Homo sapiens: one gene and its partner. The protein of the gene in region 1 purifies or fractionates together with the protein of each later gene. This does not show direct contact. Each region holds a gene or a part of one and is shown in the gene's direction. Other genes may lie near its edges. The genes, in order: CAPN8 and CAST.

Region 1 (15,674 bases):
ATGGAAATGGCCGAATGTCTAGGCAGAAGTCTGCTGCAGGAGTGGAGCCCTCATGGAGAACCTCTACTAGGGTAGTGCAGAAGGGAAATGTGGGGTTGAAACCCCCATGCAGAGTTTCCAGTGGGGCACTGCCTAGTGGGGCTGTGAGACGAAGACCACCATCCTCCAGACCCCAGAATGGTAGATCCACCAACAGCTTGCACTGTGCACCTGGAAAAGCCACAGGCACTCAACACCCTTGAGAACAGCCATGGGAGCTGAGCCCTGCAGAGCCACAGGGACAGAACTGCCCAAGGCCTTGGGAGCCCAGCCCTTTCACCAGTGTGGTCTGGATGTGAGACACAGAGTCAAAGGAGATTATTTCAGAGCTTTAAGATTTAATGACTGCCCTGCTGGGTTTTGGACCTGCATAGGGCCTATAGCTCCTTTGCTTTGGCCAATTTTTCCCTTCTGGAAAGGGAGTAATTATCCAATGCCTATACCCCTATTGTATTTTGGAAGTAACTAACTTGTTTTTGATTTTACAGGCTCATGGGTGGAAGGGACTTGTCTTGTCTCAGATGAGACTTTGGACTGGACTTTCGAGTTAATGCTGAAATGAGTTAAAACTTGGGGGACTGTTGAGATGGGATAATTGTATTTTGCAATGTGAGAAGGACACAAAGTTTGGGATAGGCCAGGGACAGAATATGGTTTGGATTTGTGTCTTCGTCCAAATCTCATGTCAATTTGTAATCCCCAGTGTTGGAGAAGGGGCCTGGTGGGAGGTGATCAGATCATGGGGGTGGTTTAATGGTTTAGCACCATCCCCCTAGTGCTATCTTAAAAGTGTGTAGCACCTCCCCTACACTTCCTCCTGCTCCCACCATGTAAGATGTGCTTGCTTCACCTTTGTCTTCCACCACGACTGTAAGTTTTCTGAGGCCTCCTCAGAAGCAGAAGCCTGTATAGCCTGCAGAACCATAAGCCAATTAAACAACTTTTCTTTATAAATTACTCAGTTTTAGGTATTTCTTTATAGCAGTGTGAGAATGGACTAATACAGCAAGTTTGTTATATAGCTAAGCTCCTGTCATAGGGATTTGTTGTACAGATTATTTCATCACCCAAGTACTAAGCCTAGTACCAAATAGTTATTCTTTTTTTGTTCCTCTCCCTCCTCCCACCCTCTACCTGCAAGTAGGCTCCAGTGTCTGTTGTTCCCTTCTTTGTGTTCATGAGTTCTCATCACTTAGCTCCCACTTACAAGTGAGAACATGTGGTATTTGGTATTCTTGCATTAGTTTGCTAAGGACAATAGCCTCTAGCTCCATCCACATTTCAGTAAAAGACATAGTCTTGTTCTTTTTTTGACTGCATAGTATTTCAGGGTGTATATGCACCACGTTTTCTTTATCCAATTTGTAATTGATGGGCATTTTGATTGATTCCATGTCTTTGCTATTGTGAATAGTGCTGCAAGAAACATTTGCTTGCATGTATCTTTATGGCAGAATGATTTATATTCCTTTGGGTATATACCCAGTAATGGGATTGCCAGATATAATGATAGCTCTGTTGTTAGGTCTTTGTAGCTCAGGAATTTTTATGGAGGCTTTATCTCATAGGCATGATGGATTATCAACCTAGTCACCAGCTCCTCTCCCCTGCCTGGAAGATGGGGAGTGGGGCTGAAAGTTCCAAGCCCTCCCTTCCTCCCTCCCTCCCTCCCTCCCTCCCTCCCTCCCTCCCTCCCTCCTTTCTTTCTTTCTTTCTTTCTTTCTTTCTTTCTTTCTTTCTTTCTTTCTTTCTTTCTTTCTTTCTTTCTTGTTTCTGAGACAGGGTCTCTCTCTGTTGCCTAGGCTGGAGTACAGTGGCATGAACATGGCCCGCTACAGCCTCAATCTCCTGGGCCCAAGCAATCCTCTTGCCTTGGTTTCCTGAGTAGCTGGGACTACAGGTGTGTACCACTATGTCCAGCTAGTTTATTATTTTTTATTTTTAGTACAGATATCATCTCACTGTGTTGTCCAGGCTGGCGCTGAACTCCTGGGCTGAAACGATCCTTTTACGTTGGCCTCTCAAAGTTCTGGGATTACAGTTGTGAAGCAACTTGCCTGGCTTTTTCCAAGCTTCTAATCATGGCTTGGTCTTTCTTGTGACTAGCCCCCATTCAGGAGCCCACAAGAGTCACCTTATTAGAACAAAAGACTCTTCTATTCCCAGGAAATTCCAGGGATTTAGGAGCTCTGTCAGGAACTAGAGTCAAAGACCAAATATTACAACAAAAGATGCTCCTAGCACATTTATCACCCAGGAAATTACAAAGATTTTAGAAGCTTTGTGCCAGGAACTGAGGACAAAGACCAAAATACTTATTTCTTATTAAATCACAAGATCACAAGAGGTATCCTGGCTGTGTCTTCCCTTCCTCCACACTCATCCCCAGCCTCTGGGACTCACAGAGGAGGTAAACTTGGGAACTCCTCTCCCTACCTGCCCAGCCCCAGTGCCACTACCTGAATTAAGCCATCATCGATTCTTGCTTGTTTCAGAGCAACTGCACCCTAACTATAGAGAAGAAGTCCACATCCATTTAGGATGGCATTCAAGGCCCCCAGTGTCTTTTCCTCTTGTTGTTTGCCTCCTGCCTCACTCCAGGAGTGAGTGATCTAGAATGATCTCATTCTAGATAATTAATATTCTGTTGGCACTGTGTGCAGAGCTGTTCCTTCTTGCCATTTTCTTGCTGTTCCCCTTGACTCCAATGCCCTTTTTACACTGCCTTCTTTCAAAATCATCATCCTTCAAGCACCTTATCCTACAGATCTAACTGGAAGGCCACCTCTTCCATGAAGCCCTCCTTATCACTCATCATCCTCAGAATCAACCACTCTTTCTTTGAGCATTGCCTGGTCTTTCCACTGCATGGAAGTTCTTTGTGGGCAGGCATGGTGTCTATTTGTCTTTCGATTTTTTCTTTTCTTTTCTTTTTTCTTTTTCTTGAGACAAGGTCTTGCTCTGTCACCTAGGCCAGAGTGCAGTGGCGCGATCTCAGCTCTCTGAAACCTCCACCTCCTGGGTTCAAGCAATTCTTCTGCCTCAGTCTCTTGAGTAGCTGGTATTACAGGTGCCTGCCACCATGCCTGGCTAATTTTTTGAAATTTTTATAGAGATGGGGTTTCACCACGTTGCTCAGGCTGGTCTGGAACTGCTGGGCTCAAGTCATCTGCCTGCCTTGTCCTCCCAAAGTGCTGGGATTGCAGGCCTGAACAAATGCGTCTGGCCTCTATTTGTCCTTTTATCCTCCTACGAGCATTGACCCCTGCCCAGTGGAGTGTTGGCACAGAGACGGCTTGCAGATCTGAGTGAGGCTTGCAGATCTGAGTGAGGCACAGAGATGGCTTGCAGATTGGAGGGCTGAGTGAGTCATTGGATTTCTTCCTTTTAGGCATCACATCTCACAGCCTACTGCCCAGGTCGCATCTCCCTGTTGGTATGTGTGGGTAGCGTGCCTTAAAAAGAGCATGGGAATTAAAATCAGAAGACTTGGGCTCAAGTTTGCTACTTGAGTGACCTTGGGGTAGCCTGACAATATGATCTTTCTTACAGACTTGTCGTGAATCTCTAAGCAGCCATGGCAGGAAAGTGCTATGTAGACCTTGCATTCTATTCAAATGTGAGTTTTTGCCACATTACTTAGTCATACCAGGTCAACAGGATCTGTAGGCCTCTAGGGGGCAGTCTCAGCTGGCCTCCCAACTGGCCTTGACTGAGCCCTTTCCTGCCAGGATGAAGGCCTGAGCTGTGACCCCTAAGATGCCATGAGCGATCCTGCAGACCTGGAGAGAGAATGAGCCCACACATCTCAACTCATCCAGGCTTCTGGTTAGGTAGGGTTTGCTCTTACAGCTCTAGAACTGTTTGCATGTGCTGGGCACTTGATATCCTGGGCAGATGGGAAGCCAATCTCTTCCTTAGAGGCCACCTACCAATGCTTGTATCATAGCCAGCCTTCCCCTCTGTAATGCCTTTTTTTCTCCTTTTCAATTTTAAAATTGAGATATAACTCACATAACATAAACATCGCCAAAGTGTACATTTAAAGTGTGATATTTATTTATTTATTTGAGACAGGTCTCGCTTGCTCATCCAGATGAGAGTACAGTGGTGCAACCATAGCCCACGGCAGCCTCAACCTCCTGGGCTCAAGCGATGCTCCCAGCTCAGCTTGACAAAGTGCTGGGATTGCAGGTGTAAGCCACTGTGCCTGGCCTAAAATGTGACTTTTGGTTGTGCAACTATCACCACCATCTCATTCCATAATAATTTCATCACCCCAAAAAAGAAACCTTGTAACTATTAGAGTCAGCCCCACTTCCCAATCCTTGGCAACCACGACTCTGCTTTCTTTCCCTATGGCTTTGCAATTCTAGGCATTTCATAAAACTGGAATTATACAATGTATGGCCTTTTGTCATTCGCTTCTTTTACTTTGCATGTCTTTAAGATCCGTCTATGTTGTAGCATGTAACAGTATCTCGCTCCTTTTATGGACTCCTTTTATGGCTGAATAATATTCCATCATATGCATATACCACATTTTGTTTATCCATTTGTCCATCGATGGGCATTTAGGTTGTTTCCACTTTTTGGCTATTATGAATAATGCTCCTATGGGCATTTATGTACACGTTTTTGTGTAGACATATGCTTTCAATTCTCTTTCAATCCTTGAAGTGGGATGTTACTCAGAGTTACTGTGTAATTCTATGTTTAGCATTTTGAGAAACTGCTGGACTGCTTTCCAAAACAGCGGCACCATTTTACATTCCCACCAGCAATGTATGAGAACTCTGTAATCCTCTTGACACTGGATTCAACCCCTGCTTGCCTTAGCATTCTGAAACTGTCAGGCCCAGGAGAGAGAATTCTGCAGTTAGCTTGCACCCATCTTTTCCCTGAAGTTATAGTTATGCAAGACAACAAGCTTTGCAAACTTTAATCATCTGAAAAGAACACTTGGACCGCTGGGTGCAACCAGAGTGATTTATCTTCCTTTCTAAGGGGATAATACAGCCTTGATCCTTTTGACTGAGAGGAGCCATGTATAGATACAGCTCAGCATCCCCACTTGGCTGGTGTGCACAGAGAAGAGGCAGCATTCACCTGGGCTCTTTGCCGAGAAGTGTTCTTATTAAGGAGGTGCTGCCAGGCGTGTGTCAGTTGTGTCTGCACACCCTCATCAACCTCTTAGTGGATCCTCAGGCTGCCTGGCAAGGAGCTGGCACTGGTTCCTGTGGTGCCTGGGGTGTGAGGCTGGAGAGACATCTGTCCAGGTGGACAGAGACAGTGGATGCAGGCTGCTTCCTCCTGGGTACCTGGCTGGAGAACACATAGATGTTTGCTGTCTGCTCATGAGGCGCTGGGGAGCAGAGACTTCTCAACTCCACTTGTTCTTTTTGTGCCTGGATACAAGGAAGGCTCTATTTTCAGTGGCTCAGACCTGCCAGCCTCGATGAGGAAGGGTTTGTTTGCACAGCATCTGGATGTGGGAGCGAGGTAATTCAGGCAGGTGGGGTAGGAAGGAGATTGCTAACCTCGAAGGAGTTCCCTTGTGCAGAAGGAAAATTACCAGCTGTGCTTATTCTGTGATTGGATGGAGGAAGGGCTTGTTCATTTTAGTCAGTCTAAGGGGAATGTTTCTGGGAGGTGTAGGGGAGAAAGAGGCAAGAAAAACAATCCCATAGGATCCTTGCTAATGAACTAATGACCCTGCCGGAAGGTGTCAGGTCCATTATACCTGGTGCACGTTTATCCACAGCACATCTCATACCTGTAGGTGTATATTCATGCAACAAATATTTATTGAGTCCCTACTATGTTCCAGGAGCTTTCTAGGGTTCAGGAATACAACAATGAGTAAAACAAACAGGGGTAATTGTCCTCGTGGAGATCAGAGCCTTATGGGGTGGAGAGGCATTAATTAAATGATTACAGGAATCGGTGCGGGACAGGGTCTTGCAGGTTGCTATGAGAGCGTATAAGAGGGGAAAATGGCTTAGTATGAGGTGTGGAGTTGTCCAGAAAACCTTTTCTGGGGCACCCAGGTCTACTGGATGAACAGGGCTGGGGTGGGGAGAAGAACATTTCAGGTGGAGGGCACAGAAGGTGTCAAGCCCTGAAGCAGGACAGAACACAACATTCCAGGAATGGAAAGAAAGCCAGGAGGGGAGAATGGAGCAGGAGGAAAGGTAGGCAGGGCCAGCTGCTCAAGGTCTAATGGGCTGTGCAAAATCCCCCTTACTCTTCTCCCAGGAACAGTGGGCAGCCATTGGAGGTTTTAAGCTTGGCAGTGACACAGCCAAGATTTGCAATGACCATTCTGTTTTGACTGAATGGAGTTGTGGTTCTGGTTTTAGGGGTGGTTGGGGCCACCCAAGTGAGACCGTGTCAACTGTGTGGGCCGGTGAAAATGTAACTGTGAACACTAGATGAGCTTAATAGTGGGCAGATGTGGAATCAAAGGGAAAGTGATGTTGAGGGAAGGAAGACGGGGTCCCCAAGGGGGCATGGACCATAGTCTTTCTGAGGCTAGCTTTAGCCTCTGAAGGCCATTTTGGCCTTGAATTTCTTTTTCTTTCTTTCTTTCTTTTTTTTTTTTTCAGGCAGGGTTTCATCACTCTGTCACCCAGGCTGGAGTGGGTGACTCACTGCAGCCTTGACCTGACCTCCTGGGCTCAAGTGATCCTCCTACCTCAGCCTCTTGAGTAGCTGGGACTACAGGCATGCACCACCATGCCCAGCTAATTTTTCTTTTTTTTTTTTTAGAGACTGGGTCTTGTTATGTTGCCCAGGCTGGTCTTGAACTCCTGGGCTCATGCAATCCTCCTGCCTCAGCCTCCCAAAGTGCTGAGATTACAGATCTGAGCCACCATGCCTGGCCTGGCCTTGAGTTTCTGATGAAACCTGGGAAACCACATGTTTTTCTGAACACCTGGGAGCAACCCTTCTTTCTACTTGCTCAGACCTACCCACCTAGCTAAGTGCTTAACACGTGGACTGTCATTGGCTTAGAAGGTCAGAGTTGGAGGCCTCAGAGGTCGGCTGGTCCAGAGCTTCTCAGAGGGCATCCCTGGATCCTTGTATTAGCATCATCTCTGTGGTACTGGTTTAAAAACTGCAGATTCCTGGGTCTTACTTCAGACCTCCTGAATTAGAACTCTTTTTTGGGAGGGATGGGGGTGGAGGATTTGTGGTAGCACCTATTAGGGAATCAGCATTTTGAGCGAGTGCTCCAGGGGATTCTTCTGCACACTATATTTGTTTCCTGCGTCTTCTGTAACAAATGACCACAAATATGGTGGCTTAGAACAACATACATGTATTCTGTCACCGTTCTGGAGGCCAGAAGTCCCAAGGCTGTGAAATCGAGGTGTTGGAAGGCCCACATCCCTCCAGCGGCTCTAGGGGAGAATCCATTCTTGCCCCTTCCAGCTCCTGTGGCTGCTGGTGTTCCCTGGAGTGGGGCAGGATCTCGCTAACCTCTGCCTGCCTCATTTCATCACCTCTCCTTTTTGTCTATTGTCAAATCTTCTTCTGCCTTCCTCTTAGGACACTTGTGTATTTAGGGTCAGGATAATCTTCCCATCTCGAGATCCTTAACTTAGTCATAGCAGCAAAAACCCTTTTCCCAGATAAGGGACTATTTACAGGTTCTCAAGATGAGGACCTGGTATCCTTGGGGGACCATTTTCTAGTGTGCCACAAACACTGAAGTTCAAAAAGCATTGGTGTGGTTGACATCCTTCGGGTAGACCAGATGTAGGAAACTGGAGCCCAGAGAGAAGTGACTAATCCAAGGTCATACAGCTTGTAACTCACTTCTGAGATTGGAATCAAGGCTCCTGATTCCAAGGCCTTTCTGGGAATCCTGGCTTCAAGGAATAGTGATACCTGACATTCACTGAATGTTACTTCATACTGTTCTAAGCAGATGACATGTACTATCTCATCACTCTTCCGAACAACCCTTTGTGGTAGGCTCTCCTATGCTCTTCCAGTTTATAGATAAAAAAACTTAGGAGAAAAGAGGTTAAACAACTTGCCCAACATGACAGAGCAAATTACCGGGGGAGCTGGGATAGAAACCGAGGCAGTCAGAGGCCAAAGCGTTCACTCACAGGTGGAACCTCCTCCAGTCAGGCTTATTCCAAATCTGGCCTGTGAATCACTACTCTCTGGTATTTTTTGCCTTCCTAGGAAATATGCACCAAAACATTTCTGGCAGGAAAGGAGGCCCCTGTAACTACTTGCCTTCTTCCTGCTCAGAGCCATGCCTCCAATTCCTTGATGAATATTTGCTTCAAGCTGCTCAATAAGCCTTCTCATCTCAGTCAATGGGCTTGAAGCAAGGTAAGCAGGTCTTGCAAAGAGGTGTGTGGAGGGAATGCCGGGGTGGGGTCAAGATCCTAATGGATTTCTTAGGCTAATGGCCTGGGATGGGCCCTGGAAAGTTCCCAGACCCCAAATTATTTGCAAAAGGCAGAAGAAGAAGGTGGGGCAGATTGGCCTGGACCTTGGGTACATATTTGTCCCTGGCCATGACTCACTTCCTTCTGGAACAGGGCCTCAGGTGAAATGTTTGTCTGCTCCACCTCCTTTAGTGCCTTATAGCTCCCCTCCCAGTGGAGCAGGTGTCTGAGAGTACAGTGCAGCCCTGCCCTTCTGTCCACCCTACAGAGCCCACGGCCATGGCAGCCCAGGCAGCTGGTGTATCTAGGCAGCGGGCAGCCACTCAAGGTCTTGGCTCCAACCAAAACGCTTTGAAGTACTTGGGCCAGGATTTCAAGACCCTGAGGCAACAGTGCTTGGACTCAGGGGTCCTATTTAAGGACCCTGAGTTCCCAGCATGTCCATCAGCTTTGGGCTACAAGGATCTTGGACCAGGCTCTCCGCAAACTCAAGGCATCATCTGGAAGCGGCCCACGGTAAGGAAGCGGGCTTGCTGTTGAGTGACATACAAGGTGGAGGGGCCTTACATCTGATCAGGAGGAACTGAGGGAGAAGTTGAGGCTGTGGACCCTAAGTGTCTGGATCTCATATTTCAGATCCCTCCACCACCACCTTTTTTAATTTTATTTTTTTGAGATGGAGTCTTGCTCTGTCACCCAGGCTGGAGTGCAATGGCATGATCTCAGCTCACTGCAACCTCTACCTCCTGGGTTTGAGTGATTCTCCTGCCTCAGCCTCCCGAGTAGCTGGGATTACAGGCATGTGCCACCATGTCTGGCTAATTTTGTATTTTTAGTAGAGATGGGGTTTCTCCATGTTGGTCAGGCTGGTCTCAAACTCCCAACCTCAGGTGATCCATCTGCCTCAGCCTTCCAAAGTGCTGGGATAGCAGGCATGAGCCACTGCATCTGGCCCCCCCATCACCTTTTGAACTCTTATTTTTTTTGAGGCAGAGTCTCACTCTGTCACCCAGACTGGAGTGCAGTGGTGCGATCACAGTGCACTGCAACCTCAACCTTCCTGGGCTCAGGTGATTTTCCTACCTTAACCTCCCAAGTAGCTGGGATTATAGGCACGTGCCACCACACCCAGCTAATGTTTACATATTTTTGTAGAGACAGGGTTGTGCTGTGTTGCCCAGGGTGGTCTTGGACTCCTGGGCTTAAGCCATCTGCCCACCTCAGCCTCCCAAAGTGTTAGGATTACAGATGTGAGCCACTACACCCAGCCTGAACTCTTGTTCAGAGATGGTGAGGTATAGAGAGAAGAGCATGGATGAGCTTTGGAACTAGGTAAGATAGATTTGAATCCTAGCTCTGCCTGTGTTGTTTTGGGCCGGTAAACTCTGTGAACCTTAGTTTTCTCATCTGTAAAATGGCATTTACTGGCACCTTATTTTTCAGGGTTGGTATGAGAATTAGAGATAAATCTCAGAGCATAGTGCCCAGAACATAATAGATGCAGAATACGTAGTTGTTATTACTGCATATGGTCCCTGGGCCAGTGCACAATGGAACAACTCAGTGCTGGATGCAATCAGCTGGCAGGTAAATTGTGACAACATCATTGCTGAAAGGTGCACGGTTGCGCAAGGTCATGAATTGACATTATTCCATCAGGGCTGGTGAGTGGAGAGGTGGGAGCTGGGGCTCTGTGGATGCAGACGGAAGGCAGAGGCTCCTGGATGCGGTTACTGATACTACCCAAAGCTCAAGGGCAAGGGATGGAGAACAGTCCTCCCAAAACCTAGACCCATGACCTATCACTATGTGACCCTTGTCAAGTGATTCCTCAGGGATGAGAACCTCTCCCATACAGAGTGGTTGTGAGAATTGAGCTCATCCATACAAAGTGCTCTGTTCAACAGAGCTCATAACAACGTCTCAGGAGAGGGGCTATGAAATGACCTGGGCACCTTTTGTCTTCTAAACCATGATAGGGAAATTAAGTCAGGGTTCCTATTTTCTTGGCAGTGGTTGAAACAGGAAGACAAAGGGAGAGTACTTCTTCTAAAATGGTCAAAATCACTATTTAACTCCAGCTAGCTACCTCTACCCTTTTTACTTTGATCCTGCTGATTTTGCCTAACAGTTTTCATCTCTGAGAATAACTCCTTGGCCATGCTGCCCTCCCGCCCACCGTGGTTCATCTTCCCATTCCCCTCTGAAACCTATAGGGTTACCCTGGTATGTTGATAAAATCCAGATTGGGAGTAATGGTTTTTATTCTAATTTCAAGACAGCCACATTTCATTTCAACAGACAGTTTTTTTGAGCTTCCATTTTGTGCCAGGCATGGGCTCTGCACTGATTGGAAAGGTGGTCAGGGAGAAGCTGAGGAAGGAGCTGTGGTCTCAGCTCTGATGGAAAGTGTGGGGAGACACAGGTGTGAATAAAGGACAGATGCCCAAGGCAGAATGAAGTAAGAACTCTACAGAGGCATAAATGATGGGCCATGGGAACCTGGGTTGTCACAACTGGGTGGTGAAAAGCCTTAGGGAGGGGTACCATTGCAGATCCCAAGGGTCTTGGGGGAGAGGAAGGAGGGGGAGAAAATTTTCCTTTAGAGACCAAAGTCAGGTATCAGTTAACCTTTGCTTAGTTTTTCTCCTTTCTTTGAAATCCTTAGAGACTTTACCTCCTTAACCACATAGCCTGTTCTTCCCCAAACTATGTCTTCACCTGTCCTCGTGGTCTGTGGAAATGCGGTAATTGTAGACTGGATGTGCTGATTTGTGGCTGTCAAAGGAGGAAGTAAAATTCAGAGCATGAGGCAGTAGAACCTGAGTAATGCGGAAGGTGCAATTGAAGGACTCCTATTTGGAGTTTTCAAGTGCGTGTTGAGTAAATAAATGCGTGTCAAAATTTAACCTCTCCTTCCCTAATCATCAGTGAAAAATTATCACACAGCTGCTTTTGGGCAGGCTCATGCTCACATACCACAAGGGTACATTAGAGAAGGCAGACTTATCCTCTAAGATCTTACAGTTATTGAATAGACTCCTGAATCAGTAAAGATTCTGATCCTATCTCTATGAGGAACATGCATTGAATGCTGAGAAAATTAGCCTGATCCTAAATGCTTCATTATTATTTTTTCCTCCCAAGAGGCCTTTCAAGGGTTTGCAAAGAGATCAGGGTATCCAGAAATGTGGTGCATTGTAAGTTCATTTGTTGCATTTACTCATTTATTTTTAAATTGTGGTATGATACACATAACATAAAATTTGCCATCTTAACCCCTTCTAAATGCACAGTTCAGTGGCATTAAGTACATTCCCATTGCTATGCAACCATCACCACCCTCCATCACCAGAATTGTTTTTATCTTGCAAAACAGAAACTAAATACACATTTAAAAACTCCCCATTCATTCTTCCCCGAATTTCGTTTCCTTTCTTTTCTTTTTTCTTTTTCTTTCTTTCTTTTTTTTTGTTTGAGATAGAGTCTTTCTCTGTTGCCCAGGCTGGAGTGCAGTGGCGCGATCTTGGCTCCCTGCAACCTCTGCCTCCCCAGTTCAAGCGATTCTCCTGCCTCAGCCTCCTGAGTAGCTGGGATTACAGGCACCTGCCACCAAGCCTGGCTAATTTTTTGTACTTTTAGTAGAGATCGGGTGTTGCCATGTTGGCCAGGATGGTCTGGAACTCCTGACCTCAAGTGATTCAATCACCTCGGCCTCCCAAAGTGCTGGGATTACAGGTGTGAGCCACTGCGCCTGGCCCTTCTCCCCAGTTTCTGACAACTGTTCTCCTTTCTGTCTCTTTGAATTTGATTATGTTGGGTACCTCATATAAGTGGAATTATACAGTATTTGTCCTTTTGTGACTGGCATAACTCACTTAGCATAATATCCTCAAGATTCATCCATGTTGTGGCATATGTCAAAATTTCCTTCCTTTCAAAGGTTGAATAGTATTCTGTGGTGTCTATAGACCACATTTTGTTTATTCATTTGTCCATTGTTGGTCTTGGGTTGCTTCCACTTTTGGTTATTGTGAATCATGCTGCTACAAACATGGGCATACAAACTTCTCTTTGAGACCCTGCTTCCAGTTCTTTTTGTTATATACCCAAAAGATATGACCCATGGCTGGATCATATGGCAGTTCTACGTTCAAGTTTTTGAGGAACCACAGTGCTGTTTTATATAGTGGTTGCACCATTTTGCATTCCCACCAGCAGTGCACAGGGTTCCTATTTCTCCACATCCTTGCCAATGTTTGTTATTTTCTTTCATTTTTTTTCTTTTTTGAGATGGAGTTTCACTCTTGTCTTGTCACCCAGGCCGGAGTACAATGGTGCGAATTCGGCTCACTGTAACCTCTGCCCCTCGGGTTCAAGTGATTCTCCTGCTTCAGACTCCCGAGTAGCTGGGATTACAGGCACTCGTAACAATGCCCAACAAATTTTTATATTTTTAGTAGAGACAGGGTTTTGCCATGTTGGCCAGGCTGGTCTTGAACTCCTGACCTCAGTTGATCTGCCCACCTTGGCCTCCCAAAGTGCTAGGATTACAGGTGTGAGCCACTGCACTCAGCCATTTTCTGTTTTTTGATAGTAGCCATTCTAATGGGTGTGAGGTGACATTTCATTGTGGTTTTGATTTGCATTTCCCCAAAGATCAGTGATGGTGAGCATCTTTTCATGTGCTTATTGACCATTTGTAGATCATCTTTGGAGAAACATATATCCAAGTTCTTTGCCTTTTTTTTTTTTTTTTTAAGACAGGGTCTCACTCTGTTGCCTAGGCTGGACTGCAGTGGTTCAATCTTGGCTCACTGCAACCTCTGCCTCCTAGAATCAAGTGATTCTCGTGTCCCAGCCTCCCAAGTAACTGTGACCACAGGCTCCTGCCACCAATTGGCTAATTTTTTGTGTTTTTAGTACAGATTGGGTTTTGCCATGTTGGCGAGGCTGGTCTCAAACTCCTGGTCTCAAGTGACCCACCTGCCTCGGCCTCCCAAAATGTTGGGATTACAGGTGTGAGCTATTGTGCCCAGCCCCTTTGCCCATTTTTAATTGTGTCGTTTGCTTTTTTATTTCACTGCTGCTTTTGAGGGTGATTTTGTACTTCTTCAGTGTTGGGGGCTTTAAGTCCACTGCCTAAATGTGACTCATATGATCCTGGTTCCCACACAGACGTTAATTTCTACCGCCCTTTGGGGGAAAGCAGATGAGATGGGTTGAACATGTATGTACACATGTTTTTGTCCTCTCAATAATAAAATAAAGATTGATACTTAGATATTTTCTGAAATCACATCATTTGACATCCTGCCCCTGCTGGGCGTTTCTGCCTATTCATAAGCAATTGAGCAAAGATTTGCTTGAGCTCTTGTCCCAAGGGTTTCAGGACAAGTTTGCCCAGAGGAAGGGCTCAAGGTCAAGCATAGGTTCTCAGGATGAACTTTTGGTTATTCACAATCCTGAGACAATTTAGGGTTGGGCAAGAACAATCCTACCACAAACAGCATGGTTGGCTATGTGAGATCGGGGGTGTTCTTAGCAGGTAGATTTTTGCCTCCTTATTTTCTGGCTTCCCCTCTGTGCTTGGTTAATGCCCAGCCCAGGTCCTGTGGTTTGAGGAATGCCCAGCATGAGCAGGCCCTGGTGCAGTGCAGTCAATGATATTCTTCCCTGAAGTGTCCACTTTTTGGCAATTAAGTGGTTTATTGATCTTAAGGAGAAATACAGCAAGACAGCAATGAAGTGATGTCAGCTGCATAATAAGGACCTAGTTTAAGAGAAATGTCAAGGGGATGAATTGTTGGGAGGTTAGGATAAGGATGAGGGTGACAGGCCTCAGCTTGGAGCTTCCACTCTTTCTTCAGCTGCTACATCTGGAGTGAATCTGGAGTTTTCAGTTTAGCCATGATTTATTGCGTGCTGGTTGTGTTCAGGTGCTGGAGAGGAGTCTTTGTGGAGCTTTGGCTCATCAGGGAGAGACATACGGACAAGTGGACAGCTGGCAGGCCACAGAGTGGTTAAGAGCATGAGCTCGTGCGTCAGGTAGATCAGGTTTCTGGTCCCCTCTGGCCATTTGCTAGCTGAGGAACCATGACTAATGACCCCAAGACTCAGTTTCCTCTTCCATAAAATGGAGATAACAATATTACCCACTTCACTGTTTTTTGGAGGCTTTGGTTATTGGGATGCTTGAATAAGGAAATCTAGCTGTTATTACAAGACAGAATATCCAGAGAGTGAAATAAATAGAAATATGAACACAATGTATGGGAGTTCAGGGGAAGAAGCAGTTAAATTTGACAGTGACATTGGGGCAGGTTAATTACCGGAGACGTTTGAGTTGGGATTGTTGGTGGAAGAGAATCGGGATAGAGACTGAAGAGAAGGCGCAGGTGTGGGCAGAGGTACTGGGTTGTGGCAGTGCATCGGGAGCAAGTGTATTCAGAGGAAGGTGGGAGTCCACTGTGATGGGAAGAGAGTGATAATCACTCACTGTGGGAAACTGACAGACAAAGCTGGAAACATCCAGTGGGGCCAGATCACAGAGGGATGGAGGTGCTGGGTCAAGCAATGTGGCTATACTTGAAGATGATGATGGTGAAGATGGCAGCATCTCTGGGGGTTCTAAAAACCAGAGCTCCTAAAGTGCAAACCAAAGCTATCAGACATGGTTAACGCTCTAGGAGAGCAGTGTGGCCAAACAGCCATCATCACTGAGACAGTGTGGGTTTCAGTCACTTTCTGCCTTGGATTCTTGACTGATACCTGTATTTCCTTAGGCCTGGTCATCAGAGGCTGATCCTAGGTTAGAGTAATTTGTATTTATGGAGTGTTTTGAGATCCTCGCTTGAGTAATAGAAAACAGTGTTACTAAAAAGACATGATTGTTATTAGGAAAGATAAAAAAGGGTTCTAAGTGTGGGTAGGTGGCAGGCTGCCTCTTCACAGAATCCTGCCTCTTTAAAACCTCTCTGACTCCCAATTACTTTGTATCTCTGATCTGTGCTTCAACAGGAACTTAGTAATGGAGAGATTTGGGGTAAGTTCTTTGGGCATCGTAGTGAGATGGAATCTCCTTGCAAAGCTGGGGATTTTCTTTTTCTTTTTCTTTTTTGAGACAGAATTTCACTCCATCACCCAGGCTGGAGTGCGGTGGCGCGATCTTGGCTCACTGCAACCTCCGCCTCCTGGTTTCAAACAATTCTTATGCCTCAG
Region 2 (16,267 bases), on another chromosome or scaffold:
ATTTGAAAGACTGAAAAGCAAAATAAATAAATAAATAACTATGAGTCTTATTCTGTATTTTTCTAGTGGTAGTTTTAGTCTAATATTTGTTGTTTCCCCTTAAAAATACTACTTAATTTCCCCTTTTTCATTCTTGTTGCTTAACTATCCTTTTTTCCTTTTTCTTCTTCTTCCCCTCTCTCTTTTCTCTTCCCTTGTATCTCTCCTTTCTCCTTATCGTTTTCTTTTCTTTTCTTTTTTTTTTTTTTTGAGACGGAGTCTCACTCTGTTGCCCAGCTGGAGTGCAGTGGTGCGATCTCAGCTCACTGCAACCTGCGCCTCCCGGATTCAAGGAATTATCCTGCCTCAGCCTCCCAAGTAGCTGGGATTACAGGTGTGCACCACCATGCCTGGCTAAATTTTTTTGTATTTTTAGTAGAGACAGGATTTCACCATATTGGCCAAGCTGGTCTCAAACTCCTGACCTTTTGATTTGTCTGCCTCAGCCTCCCAAAGTGCTGGGATTACAGATGTGAGCCACCGCACCCGGCCCATTTTCTTTTTTCAATTCTTTTTCTTACCTTTCTTTCACTTTCACTACTTTCCTCATTTATGCTTCCTATATCTTTTTCTTAAGAAAACCAAACTGTGGAGTACATAATGAAAGCAAAAAAACCTCACGTGTAGTGTGCATAGCTACTGTATATTACCAGTTTCAAAAACAAAGCACTCTCTTTTTCTCCGATGTTATATTTTAATCTGAGAAGTAATATTTGCAGAGTTTTCAGTGGTTTGAAGGAAGTAAAATATAACACAAATATCTTCTAGACATACACAGCATAAGCTTTTACTTGACTACACTCAGATGTTATCAAGAGTAAGTTCATTAATAACTTGCTGTTATATCAAAATTGGAAAATGAAAAGTAAGAAAAAACAAAAAAGGGGCATCTGGATTTTCAAGAATATTGCAATACATTTGGAAGTGGAAGCTGAGCACACAAGAAGAGAACAAATAAAGACCATGTATATTTGTGTTAAATTTGGGGAGGGCTCACATGATAAAAGACCTTCATAGCTAGCTCAAAAGTTAAGACTTTCCTTTTATTATTTTTATTGTATACTATGTGTTTATTGCAAGAACCATTAAGAAATATAAGAAACATTAAGAAAACATAAACTGGGAAAATAAAACCAAAATAGAATTACCCAAATGCTCACATCTAGTTAATTTCTTGATGTATAGCTCTATCTTTAGCTCTACAATGTACATGCTATTTTATAAATACATTGTCCTTCTAAGAGGATACTGAATATTTTTCTGTGTCAATAAATATGGAATAGAAACCTTTCAAGACCTATAGGTGATCAGAAAAGGACAAAAAAGATGTGGGGCAGAGTGATGAGCAAGACCTGATGGTGGGTAAACATGTCCTGCTACTTGAAGAATGTGCAGGATTTAGATAACCAGATGGGAGATGTCTCTCGGAAGAACAGCAACATGGAAAAATGCAGGAAAGGGAAAGTGCATGCACGGGTCATGCATGGTCCAGTAGGGAGACCAGTGTGGCTGGGAAGCTGGCTTTCTGTGGATAAGAGGGAAAAGGCAGGGAGAAGGATAGACCCAGGCAAAGAGAAGCTTTAGAGTACCTATTCTTTATCTTCTCTGAAAACTGGACAAGAAGAAATGGATTTGAATGGCAGTCCGCAGTCAAATGCAGATGGCTCTCCACATAAAGAGAATTGTTACAAATGATCTGCAGTAGTGAATGAAAAACTGGGATTCCCCTCTAGAGAGCTTTAAAAAAGGACAGATGTCTGAGCTCAAATAAGGATCTACTGCAGATACTTGCAATGCATTTGCCTTATCTTAGCTCATCTTAGTAGTAGGCAATTTAACAATATATTCTGGCTTACTGTTTTTCAAACTGTGGGCACAATAGTTGGTTATGACATTTAGTGAGTCATCATCAACAGTTTAAAAAAGAAATTTGAATAAAGTAGAACAGAAGTTGAATATCAGAATATGCTGCCACTGTTAACATTCTCAAGAGCCTATTTGTGTAAATCGGGATTTTCAATCTTCAGCCAATTAAAACAACAAAAAAAATCTGGCTGAACAGTGCACCAGAAATGCAGGTAGCATTATCTTCATGTGTCTCAGACTGTAATAAACATGAACAGGCAAAGATAGCTGGAGCATTAAGTAAAATATTTCCTAATTTTTAGTTTTTATTGTTTGTTTTGGATTTGTTTCCACTTTGTGTTTACAGATGAATAAAACATAGTTCACATTATTCATTGTTTTTACCTGATCATAGATAATGAAGAATTGTTCCATGAAACTTCATGTTCAAATCATGTGCATTTATATGTACTAGTTGCAATGTAAAATGTATTTCTTACTGAGGACCACGGGGAAAAAAAGTTTGGAAAAATTACTGAGAACTTTACTTAAGAACAATTTGTATACTCTATGCATATTCTGCTTAGTTTCTGAATTGGTTGAGACTCTTGGTTAACAAATAACAGAAAAAGCAACTTGTACTGTTAAAACAAAAATGAGGGGAGATTATTTTGAAGGCTATAGCGTACGTCCCAGAACCAAAGCCTTTTGAGTGCAACTGGGCCTCACTAGAGAGTGCAGCTCATTAAGTGGAAGGTCGTAAGGAAGCTCAGCCCTCTTCTGTCTCCTCCTATCTCTGCTTCCCTGGCAGGCCTGTTCTTTCTTCCTGTGCGGGCTGACTTTCCGGGTCCTCAGTTTCCACAGTGAAGCCCAGGTCTACATGCTTCACGTTACGGTTTTTAGCACCCAGAAAGTTTTTTCCTCTATCTTCATCTTAATTTCATTACTCAGTCCCCACCTCCCAATGAGGAAAGAAAACCTGCCCGTTTGGGTCAGTTCAAGTCAGGTCTACCATTGGTCCAGTCAACTGTGGGCTGTGGAGAAGAGGGATAGAGCAATGGGGAGCCATGATGGGATCTGGAATTCTACTCCAAAGGAGGAACAGGGGTGAGCCGGGCAGATATTCCAAATGGCCCCTGGTGCATGCTCTTAACTCTTCTTTCTAGAAACTAGTGAATTCTTATATATTGATTCAAAGGAATCAAGATTCTGCATGTGCCCCAAATGACTTTGAGTATTAAATCCAAAGAGACACTTTTTCTTAATTAAAAAAAAACACTGTGGCTTGCAGGCAATTGAAGAACCTCTTAGAAATGGCACATTTCTTTATACAATAATCTGAGCTGGAAACAAATGCAGGGAAAGAAACAAAAATGAAAACAAACCTGACACCAATAAATATGTAATGTGAAGTGATCTGCAACAAGAAGGATCAAGACTATTTTATAATCAAACACCAAAGAGAGGTGACCTTAGGCGTACCTTGGAACATAAAAATCTTGCTTTGCAGGATGGCTTTATTTTCTGCCTTAAATCTAACCAAAGAGTTTGCAGTATTGTGTGGTTTGGGTGTGGCGGTAGAAGCCTGGGGTGAGTCACCATGATGACCAACTGTGGTTTCTTTTTTGCTATAGTGAAGAAATGTGGTTTGCTCAGTGTATCGTCCCAATCTACATGCCTTCTGGATAGGCTACAAGAAATACCTATTAATGGACAAAAGACAGGCTGAGGGAGGAAATGAAGTCTAGGCCTGGGAAAATTTAGATGACAATTTTTTGAGTGGGAGGGAGTAGGTTAGGATATATAGAAAGGAAAAGATAATTGATTCAAAATCTTCAATATGACAAGAATATGATAATTCTTATAATAAAAATTGATTCCTATGAATGACTTGGTCTAGATATATTCCAGACAGAAATAGCACATTAAAAAATTAATCTAGCTTTGGTAAATATTTGAAGCAAGCAGTTGGCTGTACAGATATTTGGGCTGCAAAAATTTCTATATAGAAAATTAATTCCATAAGATGGTGTTTGTGAGTGGGAGAAAAATGAAAGTTAGTGGAAAGTGGCAAGATTTCAAAAATATAACTTGATTTCCAGAGATACACTTGCTAGTCTGAAAATGTAATTTTGTAGGCCAGGCACGGTGGCTCACACCTGTAATCCTAGCACTTTGGGAGGCCGAGGCGAGTGGATCACATGAGGTCAGGAGTTCGAGACCAGCCTGGCCAACATGGCAAAACCTCATCTCTACTAAAAATACAAAAATTAGATGACCGTGGTGGTGGGCACCTGTAATCCCAGCTACTCAGGAGGCTGAGAGGCAGGAGAATCACTTGAACCCAGGAGGTGGAGGTTGCGGTGAGCCGAGATCATGCCACTGCACTCCAGCCTGGACAACAGAGCGAGAGTCCATCTGAAAAAAAAAAATGTAATTTTGTGACTCAGTTTTCTGTGTTGCCTCCAGATCTGAGGGGCCATGACGAACTTGCACCTATCCCAGGACAGGAACACGGGAGTACTTTGGGTTTAGTAAGTTCATTACCATGCACACATCATCCCAAATTTGGTTTCTTGTTGCCTAACAAATGTTAAAGTTATTTCAAATAACCAGCCACTCTATCAGCACATACACAAAAGAAGCAAACCAAAAAGAAAAAAAAAAGGAAATGGAAAAATGGAAAAAGCACCCATTATTGGGAATGAGTACATCAGCGTGAATTCTGGCTGCCAGCTCAGGTATGTGGGTCTGGATTAGAGCTTTCCTAGGGTACTGCTCAGCTGTGGCTCATTTTATGGTCTACAGAATGTCTGGAATGCTGGTTGAATGGAAACAGATCTATAACATTCATTGATTGGACAGGAGGTTGCTTCTTACTGGGGATCCAACAAAAACTGCTTTGCCCCTGTCCAAAGAACATTCAGGGGTTTTGAAATTTTTAACTATTAATAATAAATGCAATTTAATAATTGCAACCAGCATTTATTTGCACAATTATCATACATGAGGCACTGTGCCAAATGCTTTAATACACTGCCTTATTCCATCATCAGAATAACCCTAGGATGTAGGTACTCAGCTTTATCATCCACAGGTAACAGGTTAGGGAACTGATATTCAAAGTGATTAAGTAATTTGCTTGAGGTATGCAGTCCATAAGTGGCAGAGCTGGGATTTAAACATAGTTGTGTGGATCTAAAACTCTTATGCTTTACCCACTATGATGTATTGCCAAAATATGGCAATCTCCAGCAAATGCGATGTGGTATCTACCTGGATGTTTCTTTGGCTCTGTTTTTTATTTCTTTATAGGATTCTCTTTCAAGTATATATTTATATGCAAATCGATTCCTAGGTAGAACAGCCAGTTGGTGGAGCAGTCAAAACACACACAACATTTATCAATTAAATTCTCTGTCTTCTATGGGTGCACTATGTGGTGCCCCAAAATAATTACAATAGCAACATCAAAGATCTCTGATCACATATCACGTAACAGATATAATGAAAAAGGTTGAGGTGTTGCAAGAATTACCAAAATGTGGGTAGACATGAGGTGAACACACATGCTGTTGGAAAAATGGTGCTGACAGACATGCTCGAGGCACGGTTGCCACAAGCCTTCATTTTGTAAAAAACACAGTATCTGTGAAATGCAATAAAGCAAAGAGCAATAAAATGAGGTATGCCTGTATTTACTTGTCTGTCTCTTCTAATTGTAAAGTCCTTTAGTGTAAGAGGTCTACAGTACCTCCCCATAGCAGGCATCTGTTACTGAGTAAATAAAGGAATAAATGATTACCTATGTGCAGACAGTAATGTGGCAAAAGCCATTTATTTATTTATATTTAGTTTTTGTTTTTCTTGAGACAGAGTCTCACTCTGTCGCCCAGGCTGGAGTGCAATGGGACAATCTTGGCTCACTGCAACCTCTGCCTCCCTTGTTCAGGCGATTCTTGTGCCTCGGCCTCCTGAGTAGCTGGGATTACAGGTGCGCGCCACCATGCCCAGCTAGTTTTTTGTATTTTTAGTAGAGACGGGGTTTCGTCGTGTTGCCCAGGCTGGTCTCGAACTCCTGAGCTCAGGCACTCTGCCCACCTCAGTCTCCCAAAGTGCTAGGATTACAGGCATGAGCCACCGCACCATCTATATTTAAAAGGAGCTTCCCCAAATTAGTAAATGCTGGTCCATGATATCAAAGTTCCAATAATTCTTCACTGGCTACAAGGAAAAGCAAAACATCAGGGTCTTCAGCTTCTTTGAAATTCTTCTGTACTCATAGTCATTAATGCATTGTTTAGCAATTGTTCTGCTTATGTGAGTTCTGACTTTTAAGCTAAGCCTGAAGGTTAGGGTTATTACCTCTTATAGATTTTGATACCTAATATATCATGTATTAGTGTAGCTGCTCCACAAACAATGAGCTGGTGAATAGATTGATTACTTACTCCATTACATAGACCCTCCGCTCCAGCCAGGTGAGTGGGTTCCTCTTTATCTCGTCAGGTGCCCCCACCCCTTCTCCTTCTGTTCACACCTCACCAGCTAGCCAGCCTGCTCATGTCTCCTTCCTCCTTTCCCTCCTATTGTTGATACAACCCCTGTGGAACCCCAAACTCCCAAAACACCTTTGTACTTACTCACACACTGTTAGGTCTTTCAATATCCCTACACCATCATGTGTTACAAATGCCATATAACTTCAGCTAAACTGTCAGTCCCTGGAGGACAGGCAATGTATCTTTTTAATCTCTATATCTCTCCTTCTACTAGTCCTTTCACAATGTTTTACATAGAATACTCTCAAGAAATATATAACTGGTTTAAACTCAATTTTTAAATACTCTGTTGGAAAATAACCTCAAACTCTAATGCCACCAAGTCACTGGAAACCATTCCAGAGTTTGAATAAAGTACTCCAGGGATCTAAAACCTTGATTCTGGGATATGTAGGCTCCCCAGTAAGAAAATCATTCTAGTTCCTGGGGTGGAGGCCAGGAAGGAGGAGCTGCCTGTCACCTCACCCCTACAGCTTTTGTGTTTGTTTAAATTACTGTAGTGGTGTGGTCACAATCATAAGAAGATCTTGTTTTCAGACTTATGGCATAGTTTCCCTCCTTTCTGAATGTAACCGATGCCAACAATCATTTGTTTTTCCTGAGTGGACATAGTCCCAATATCTAAGTTGTTTCATTTTTATGTATAAATTCCTGCAGTGCTACCTGTTTGTTGAAATACTAGATACACAGACAGTAAGTACGACACTTTAAGAGGAAATGCATTTAAATCCTCTTCTCCCCGCATCCCCTCCCTCAAAATTAAGAATGCTGCTAGCCTATCCTTTGAAGAAGAAGTCAGAATTCCTAAAATGAGGAGGTACAAAGGAAACCAGAATTCTGTTCTGCCAGGCTCCATATAGCATGACAAATCTCTCCTTAAAATCTGCCTTCTGGCCGGCTGTAGTGGCTCACGCCTGTAATCCTAGCACTTTGGGAGGCAGCACTGGGCAGATCACTTGAGGTCAGGTGTTGTTCGAGACCAGTCTGACCAACGTGGTGAAACCCCGTCTCTACCATTAAAAAAAAAAAAAAAAAAAAAAAGCTGGGTGTGACAACGCGCCTGTAGTCCCAAGTACTTAGGAGACTGAGGCAGGAGAATCGCTTGAACCTGGGAGGCGGAGATTGCAGCGAGCAGAGATCGCGCCACTGCACTCCAGACAGAGCGAAACTGCCTCTCCAGAAAAAAAAAAAAAAAAAAAAAAAAGGCTCTGCCTTCTCTCTCTTCAACTGTCTAAACCCCAACGCTGCAGAAAGCGGTGACCCCAAGTCCCAGAATGATGATGCTACTGCAGGGTAACAAACAGGTTTTCTGTCAGGCCTGATTGTGAACCAGCAGCAACTGCAGGCTGACAGTTTCTCACATAAGCACGTAGGGCTTGTTAAATTTCACTTCCAGCCCCAAACCAGGAAGCGCTGTTTAAGATGAGCCCAAGAAGAAAGCAATCTAGCTTCAGAAACAAAACTCGCCAGACTCTAGAAAGACTATAAGGGTTTAAATTTGGGACTGTTCTCCGTTTTGCATTGGAACCTATGTTCTCCTCCCCATAAAAGTTTATTAAAATTCGAAACTGCCAAAAAACAAAGTAAAATCATATAAAACATACACAGGCGCGTGCACGCACGCACACACACACAGACCAATTTGTTTTTGTGATCCGCTTCCTTATCTAGACTGTCCAGGCTTGGGCCAGATTTGAGTTGGTAAACTCTCGCAGCTAAAGCGGAGCAGAATGTAGAAAGAGTATCTACTTCTCCGGATTGTTGGGAGGAGGGTCGAAGCGTAGACTGGCCACGCCCGGGTCCCGCTCTCTCGTTGCACAACTGCAAGCTAGATCTGGGCATCGAAGGAGGAACGCTGCAACCTCCAACCCCTTCTTTCTGACCAACCGGGACCAGAGCAGTGCTGGGGCCGGGGCGGGTCACCGGGTGAGGACCGGGGCGGAGGGTGTTAAGTTACAGGGCAGGAGCCCGGGTCCCTCCGCGGGCAGGAAGGGGAGGGCCCATCGGGGCTAGGGGAACCCCGGCGCAGACCTGGGGTGGGGTCGGAAAAGCTGTTTCATCGCCCGCTCCCGGGCCCTCCGCTCCCTCCCTCCCTCCCTCTCTCCCTGGCAGGACTCCCCGCCAGGCCTCCCCGCCACTCTCCGCGGCGCATTCCGGGAGGCAGCGGCCGCAGCGGCCTCGCCATGTCCCAGCCCGGCCAGAAGCCCGCCGCCTCCCCGCGGCCCCGGCGAGCAGCCGCCGCCCGCCGCACCCATGAGGTGAGTGGCGCTCCTGTCGGCGTCGCGGGGCTGGGCGATGGGGTACCGGGTCCCGGAGCTGTGGCCGCCCTCCCTGGGCGTTGCCAGGCTGGCGGGTCTGCAGTCCCCGGCGCCCCCGCGGGGCAGGGAGAGGGCTAGGGGCTTGGCCGCTGCCAGGCAGGTGGCTGCAGGTGGCTTCGGTTCCCCGGCCGGGTCCAGTGCGCTGGGCGTGGCGTTGGCCGGGTAGAGTGGAGGGGGGGACGCGTCAAGAAAAGTTGGCTGGTAAGACGTGGGTGAATGAGGATGAGGATGAACGGGGAATGAGGTTCACTCAGGACCCCCGAGTGAGTGGGGTGGTTTCACTGGACAGCGGGATGTAGTCTTCCGCGCTAAGGCCGGGCCGCAGGGCGTGGCTGCCTGGAGACGCAGAGCCTCTTCCCTAACCAGCCTCGAGCCAAATTGGGCGGGCGAGGAGGGGCGGGGCCTGCGCCGGGCCCCACCCCCAGGGTTCTGCCCACCTGGCAGCCGCCTTGGGATGTGCGGAGCTCAGTGCCAGCCCGGTCCCGGCCAAGCGGAGTGTGAGCCCGGCGCCTCCAACGCAACACCCCGCGCCCTCGCCGGCTCCCCCGCCGTGCGGATCGGAGCCAGCCGGTTGTTGCCATGGCATTCGCCAGCTGGTGGTACAAGACGGTAAATAGGAGCGGTTGTGCCTGGGCAGGACCCGGAAGGGAGTGTGTTGGAAGGGAGTGTGTTTGCTTTGCCCTTCTGGGCGTGCGGATGAAGCGTTGTCCGGGGTTTGGCGGGGAAGGGGTGCGGACCGGGTGCGACCTCCTCGCAGACCTTCAGGTTAGGCTCGGGGAGAGGCAGGGGACTCACCCTCTTGTGGTATGTATGAGCGCGCCCGAGCGTGCGCGGCGCATGCACCTCTCTCGCCCCGATGTCAAGCACTATGCTCTGCTGGCGCTCACAAGTGGGATGGAACTGGAATTGTTGCTGGAGGAATTCTGTCTAGGAGGTGGATTCCTGAATGCACTAGGACGCAGCTCGCAAGAGCTTTGATCTAGAGTTCTTTTTTAACCCCTAAGTAAAGTTCAAAACTTTTAGAGGGCGATTGTTGGACGTACATTCGCCGACGCAAAGGAGAGGCAGCTGCAATGTGAGGCAAGGAGAAAATCCCAAACATCAAGGGGCAGAAGCAACTGAGATCTGAGACCAAGACCCTTGGAGAGAGCGGTGGAGGGGTGGAGGAAAGAAAGCGAGAAAGTGAGAGAGGGAGGGAGAGAGAGACAGCGCGCACAAAAGCGAGCTTCTCTGCACTTTATTACTTTGGATGAGGGACAAGAACATTCCATTTGTTTGGTGCATTGAATGTTTGTCCTGCCAATTAGGTGTAATATCCAGTCAAGCTGGCACTTCTAGTGTTTTGGAACCAGGAAGCATGATTTAACATTAGATTGCTTTCCAAAAAAAAAAAAAAAAATCACACACAGGAGTTTTGTTGACAGTGAGAGCCAAAATGTTTATGTCTCATTGATTTATGGTGAGAATTAAAAAATTAGGTATGTCTTTTTCTCTCTTGGCATGTGGTATTGGAAAAAGCAAAGATGTTGGAATCAGACATTCTTTGGAGCTAGCTACCCTGTATAAGAATCAAGAAAGAAACTGTTACTTATCAGACAATGGACATTTATTGATCATCTATTATGTGCCAGGCAGAATTATATCCCACAAGTAGTGTTTTTTTTTAGATTATTTTTTATTCTCCGTTTCTATATAAATAGTATATATGTATAGTGTGTATGTGTGTATATTTACAGTGTGTGTGCATATATATATTTACACATATATGTAAATATATGTGTGTGCATATATATGTAAATATATGTGTGTGTGCATATATATGTGTGTGCATATATATGTGTAAATATATATATATATGCACACACACACACACATACAATATACTGTACAGGGTCTCTCTCACTATGTTGCCCAGGCTAGTCTAAAACTCCTGGTCTCAAGCAATCCTCCCACCTCAGCCTCCCAAAATGTTGGATTACAGGCATGAGCCACTGCACTGGGCCTACAGGTGCTTTTTAAAGCCTCCATGTACACTGTGGAGAACAAAGAGTTTTTCTCAAATGGAAATAAGTCAACCTTTTCAACCTGTTTTCACATGTGTAAAATAGAAATTATATGCACTACATAAGTATTGGTGAGGACTAATTAGATTTAAAAGTCAAAATGTCATACACATATACTTTTAAGAATTTGGAATTCCAATTTCCCTTGAGATACTTCTTCATGAATGTTTTCCAGTACATTTCCTGGGCTTTTACATGTAGCATTTGATTGATGTGGTAAGAACAAACCACATCAATTTGCTTTGAGTCATTATTGGCCTAAGGTTCTTATCAAAATGTACCATGTACCTTATCTGCAAATATGGATAGCAGTAGTTCAGAGTTGACATCAAAATTCTCCTTCCAGACTCATGATTCTCTCAAGGAAACTCTGCTGGGTTACTTGGATGAAAGTAGTTTGAATCTATGCTTTTAACCCTGTTTTGTTTAGTCACAGTCTGATGTTTTTGCTAAAACCTCTCTTAGAATCCCATTTTGGTACTACCATGAAAACTTTTTGCTAGTAGGAACTTCCTAGAACCAGCTACATGCCTGTGATCAAGCTTTAGCTTTGCCCAAACCAGTGCTATTCAATAGAAACATAATGTGAGCCACGTCTGCAATTTCAGATTTCCAAGGAGCCACTTTAACAACAACATCACAACAAAAAGCAGGTGAAATTTGTGCTAATTGATATATTTTACTTAACCTACTATATCCCACATATTATTATTTCATCATGTAATCAGTGTATAAGCCATTGAGATATTTTACATTCTTTTTTATACTAATTCTTCAAAATCCAATGTATATTTACATTAACAGCACATCTCAATTCACACTTGCCACATTTCAAGAGTGTTCAGTAGCCACAAGCAGCTAGGGGCTATAGTAATGGACAGTATAGCGCTAGACCATGGACTCCTAAACTTTCTTTTTTTCCTTTGGTGATAGGTGGGTGGTCACAGACAATTTTGAGAATCAAATGGGATTTATGGACTGCTTTCCCACAACAAAATACATACAAACATACACAAAATGCAGTTTCCAATATAGCTTCAGGGAGTTCAGAGATTTCCAAAAGACCACCCATAAATCCCCCAAAGGTCCATGGAGCCAGTTTATAACACACACACACACACATACACACACACACACACATATACATACACACATACAAACATATACAATCCAATATACATATATGTGCATATTTATATATAATACACACATGCATGTATAATACATATGTAGACATCTAGATTTATGTGTGTATGTATCTACAGATATAAATACAGATGTCTGTCTGTATGTACACATGCATGTATAATACATATATAGACAGATTTATATGCATATATATCTACAGATATAAACACAGATATCGGTATATACACAGACATCTCAGAATACTTCAGGTAAATCCTATAATTAAAATATCTTTGTGGAATCCTTTAAGTACTGAAAAGGTTATAAATGATCTAACTTTCAAAATTTAGGCAGAATAAAATGAAATAATTAAAAGACATGTCTCAGATGTGTTCGTTTAACAGCATGCCACCTATAAAGCTAGTCAGTGAAACGTTGCAATGTATATTTCCACATTGAATGCCATCAATCCTATTGACTTTATCTTCTGAAAAATGTGGTTGTAGTAAACACACACACACACACACACACCACACAACTCTGCAGAGCTAAATTTGAAGAACATCTATGAGCTATGTAATGATCAAGCATGAACGAAGGTTAATTTGGCCCACACCAGTCATCACATTCCTGAATCATCAGTTGATTCTATTAGACTATGTTAATTAAAGGTGTTTCTTAGCCTAATTAGATCCATAGACCTAGTGACAGCATGATCAAGGAGCCCAGTCATTTGGGAGGCCCCATCATTGCTGCCAGCCTGGGAAGAATGTTGCAAGCCTTCCATGGCAGGACAGATCACTTGCTCACAGTGAATTTTAGAACTAAGGAAGGCAAATAACAGGGCCTGCAAAAAGGGCATAGACTTTAGGGTAATGGAAACATAGAGGTCAAATACAGCCTTTCTCTTTCAGCTGACAGTCTTTGAATTAGTTCGCGCCCCATTGTGTATAAGCCTTTTAAACCAAGAGTAGCATCTGATAATATCTTTCTTTAAATCAGTTTTGGCACTTCCCAGAAGGTTAATTATATTCTACAGGTGCCTTTTAAAGAATGCTATAGCCTTCTGGGGGTGGGAACAGTGGGGGGTCATGTGAGATTCCATGTGGATAGGTGGGTAATTAGTTCTGACTAGATTGTCTCAGCAGATACAAAACTACTCTAAGTAGTACATCATTTTTCCCCCTTGAGGTATTTTTAAGATGAAAATCATATTAACAGATACTAAAGTTCTGTTCTTTGAGTTGTCTCATTTTCCTTTCATGAAAACATACCCAGAAAGCTTTACAGCCACCATAAAGGCGGGGGGCAGGGGGAAGTATATCAGATGTCTTCCAGTTAAGAAAAATGCAAGAACAGTTCCATCCAATAAACACTGTTCATGTAAGTTATCTCCTCAGATGGAAAAGTCAGTTAACTCAGGAAGAAAAAGGTCTAAAGTTATAGTTTCCTAAAAATGTATGAAATTTGTTTTGGTTGTAGGAAACTCATAGAACATAAGAATAAATTTGGTAAAGCTCAAAGATGTTCACAGTTGTTTATTGTCCACCTGCTGTGTGTCAGTTTTGTGCAGAGTGCGGTGGACACAAAAAAATCGTGCAGTGGTCTGTGCCTGGCCTCCTCTTGCATTTCTCATAGATAAAACTACAAGTTCATTCTCATGACAACTGCTGTGGCAACAAAGCAACTATTTAAATTCTCATGATACCCCCTTTGACTTAAGAAAAACTCATCCAGCCTTACTTCAGGTGAATCCCAGGAGCTAATCTATGACAGGCAATAGATGCCACCTCTGAAAATTGGACACAAAGGGCCTGTACCTTTACAGTGTCATCTTGTCATGTCCACTGAAATCTTAAAATGTTAGAAAAAACGAACACTTGGGGTTCAGTGAAAACAGAGGGATTTCAGAATTACAGCTATGCAGTTAATCCTTAATATATATTAAGCATTAGTACACAGAATAAGAGAAGAGTATAATGAGGCTGGGTGCGGTTGGCTCACGCCTGTAATCCCAGCACTTTGGGAGGCTGAGGCGGATGGATCACAAGGTCAGGAGTTCAAGACCAGCCTGGCCAAGATGGTGAAACCCCATCTCTACTAAAAATACAAAAAAATTAGCTGGGCGTGGTGGCAGGCGCCTGTAATTCCAGCTACTCAGGAGGCTGAGGCAGGAGAATGGCGTGAACCCGCGAGGCGGAGCTTGCAGTAAGCCGAGATTGCACCACTGCACTCCAGCCCGGGCGACAGAGCAAGACTCCGTCTCAATAAATAAATGAATAAATAAATAAATAAGTATAATGACCTCTTCATATACCAATCATTGGTGTCAATAATTGTCAACATTGTCCTAATCTTGTTTTATCTGTTAACCGTCACAGCTACCAGCACAGACACGCGTGCACACACACACACACACACACACCCTTTCAACATGTTTTAAAGCATGGGAATTGCAAATATAAGTCATCCTTGTAACCAAATTGCTGTAGTTTGTTGGGAAAATGAATTCTTTAACCCCCATGTAGTTTATCTCCTTGAGTGTTATACGAAGATGTGAGAATAATATATAATACACAGTCATGAGATAGACAAAGTACTAAACAAAAACTTAATCAGATGAACCTGATAAGGTTCCTTTGTACTTTAGGGAAAGTAAAATACTAAATTCTTCTGTTCTAATGTTTACAGCCTTAGAAAATGAAACCCTCAAACCTTAACTCACTGGCTTCTAATTCACCACAGTCAGATTGCCAGGGAAAAAGAAGGGAGTGAAATAATTTTAATTGTGTTCTTAAAATGAACAAGGCAATGAACCAGGTGCCTCACTAATGTCAACTCTTTTCATAAATTTGCCAGCCCCTGGGATAGATACCATTAGCCCTATTTTACAAAAAGAAACTGAAAAATTAAATTATCTGCCCAAGGTCACGGTCATATAGCCTTACAAATCTAGGCTGTTTCTGCCCTATCAGAGTTTATTGCAGTCAACTAACAGACAGAAATGACTCTGAGTATTTAAAACAAAGGGAGTGTAACATAGGGAATTGGTTACCCAGGTAAAAAAAAAAAAGGCTGGGAAGCCGTCAGGGGAGGGTGAGGCAACCCAGAGATTAGAAATTGCAGGAAGCTGCTACCATCCCTAGTCTAGAGGGACACAGGGAGGACAAGGGTCACCTTGCAGAAGCTGGAACCACAGCCAACCCATCCTGCAGGAGGTGCTACTGGAGGAGGGGGTGGGGCAAAGGGAATACCACCCACCCACCACCTCTAGTCTCCTGGCAGCGCCTGCTGTTGGCTAAACCCAACTTGAGGCCATCCATCAAGAGAATTGCAGCCAGCAAAGTTCCACTACAATTTGAACACAGCAGAAGTGGAACAAGGAATCCACCTGAAGGCAGACAGTTCTAGGATCTGCACCCAGGGAGACTGTTCTGAAGCAAAACCAGCTTTACAGAAGCTTTGGTCCATCTGCTTGTTTGCTGAATAATTTTGCTTTAGCAAGTAGAATACATATACAAATATATTTTAAGGCATTTTTGTGGGAAATACCAATTTGCACATTGTCTCTTAATTTTTCAAGCTACCTTCTTGGCCTCTTTCTCTTTTGTCTAGTTTACTGATCTGAAAAGAGCAAAATTACTTCTCAGGGAATGTTTATAGGTTTGTGGGAACATGGTCATTCAATCAAGAATTCTTTGTTATGGTCCTACCACACATCTAGGAAAAAAAGGATATAACTTACCCTGTGATTAGGAAGGCAAGATGTAAGTTTATAAAGTAATCAGTAAGCAAGAGAGTGTACAATAAAGTGCTAATTTGTTTGATTTACTGAGAAAATAGAGATTAATGTGCAAATATGAAAATATGATACTCCATTAATAGGGCAAAGCTCAGAATTTGACAGGAAACACTGGTGTAGACATAGGGCACTGTGCTGCTTCACTGACCAATCAGAGTTTACCCAGGAGGAGCCCAGAGCCACCCCAGTCTGCCTGACCCTGGGAACCTCCCCATGGGTGCCGACTCAGTGGGATGGTTTGAGGAGCGGAAACTTCCGCTTCCTATCATGGTGCCCATAAATCTTCCCCCAAAACCAGTGGTTCTCAATCCTGGCTGTATATTGGAATCATCTGGGGAACTTTAGAAAAATTTATCCATGGCAAGGCCCCATTCTATTCAAACTAAATCTAAATCCCTGTGCCCTGACACAAATGTTTCTAAAAGCTTCCCAGGTGCTTGTGACAGGCACTGAAGGATGGGACCCACTGCTAACCTGAAGTCTTTGTGATCCTCAGGAGCCCCTGGTAGA

Evidence for each region.
Region 2: the proteins of CAPN8 (region 1) and CAST purify together in Homo sapiens (affinity purification with mass spectrometry; 2 studies listed by BioGRID and IntAct, with this or other methods). This does not show direct contact.

What each region holds. Positions count from the first base shown.
Region 1 is NC_000001.11:223,658,705-223,674,378, reverse strand, and holds the start of CAPN8 (calpain-8), read left to right. Parts: upstream 1-8,677; 5' UTR 8,678-8,732; coding exon 8,733-8,969; intron 8,970-15,674. UniProt on the Homo sapiens protein: Calcium-regulated non-lysosomal thiol-protease. Involved in membrane trafficking in the gastric surface mucus cells (pit cells) and may involve the membrane trafficking of mucus cells via interactions with coat protein.
Region 2 is NC_000005.10:96,653,794-96,670,060, forward strand, and holds the start of CAST (calpastatin), read left to right. Parts: upstream 1-8,582; 5' UTR 8,583-8,629; coding exon 8,630-8,704; intron 8,705-9,231; exon of another isoform or gene 9,232-9,343; coding exon of another isoform or gene 9,344-9,373; intron 9,374-16,267.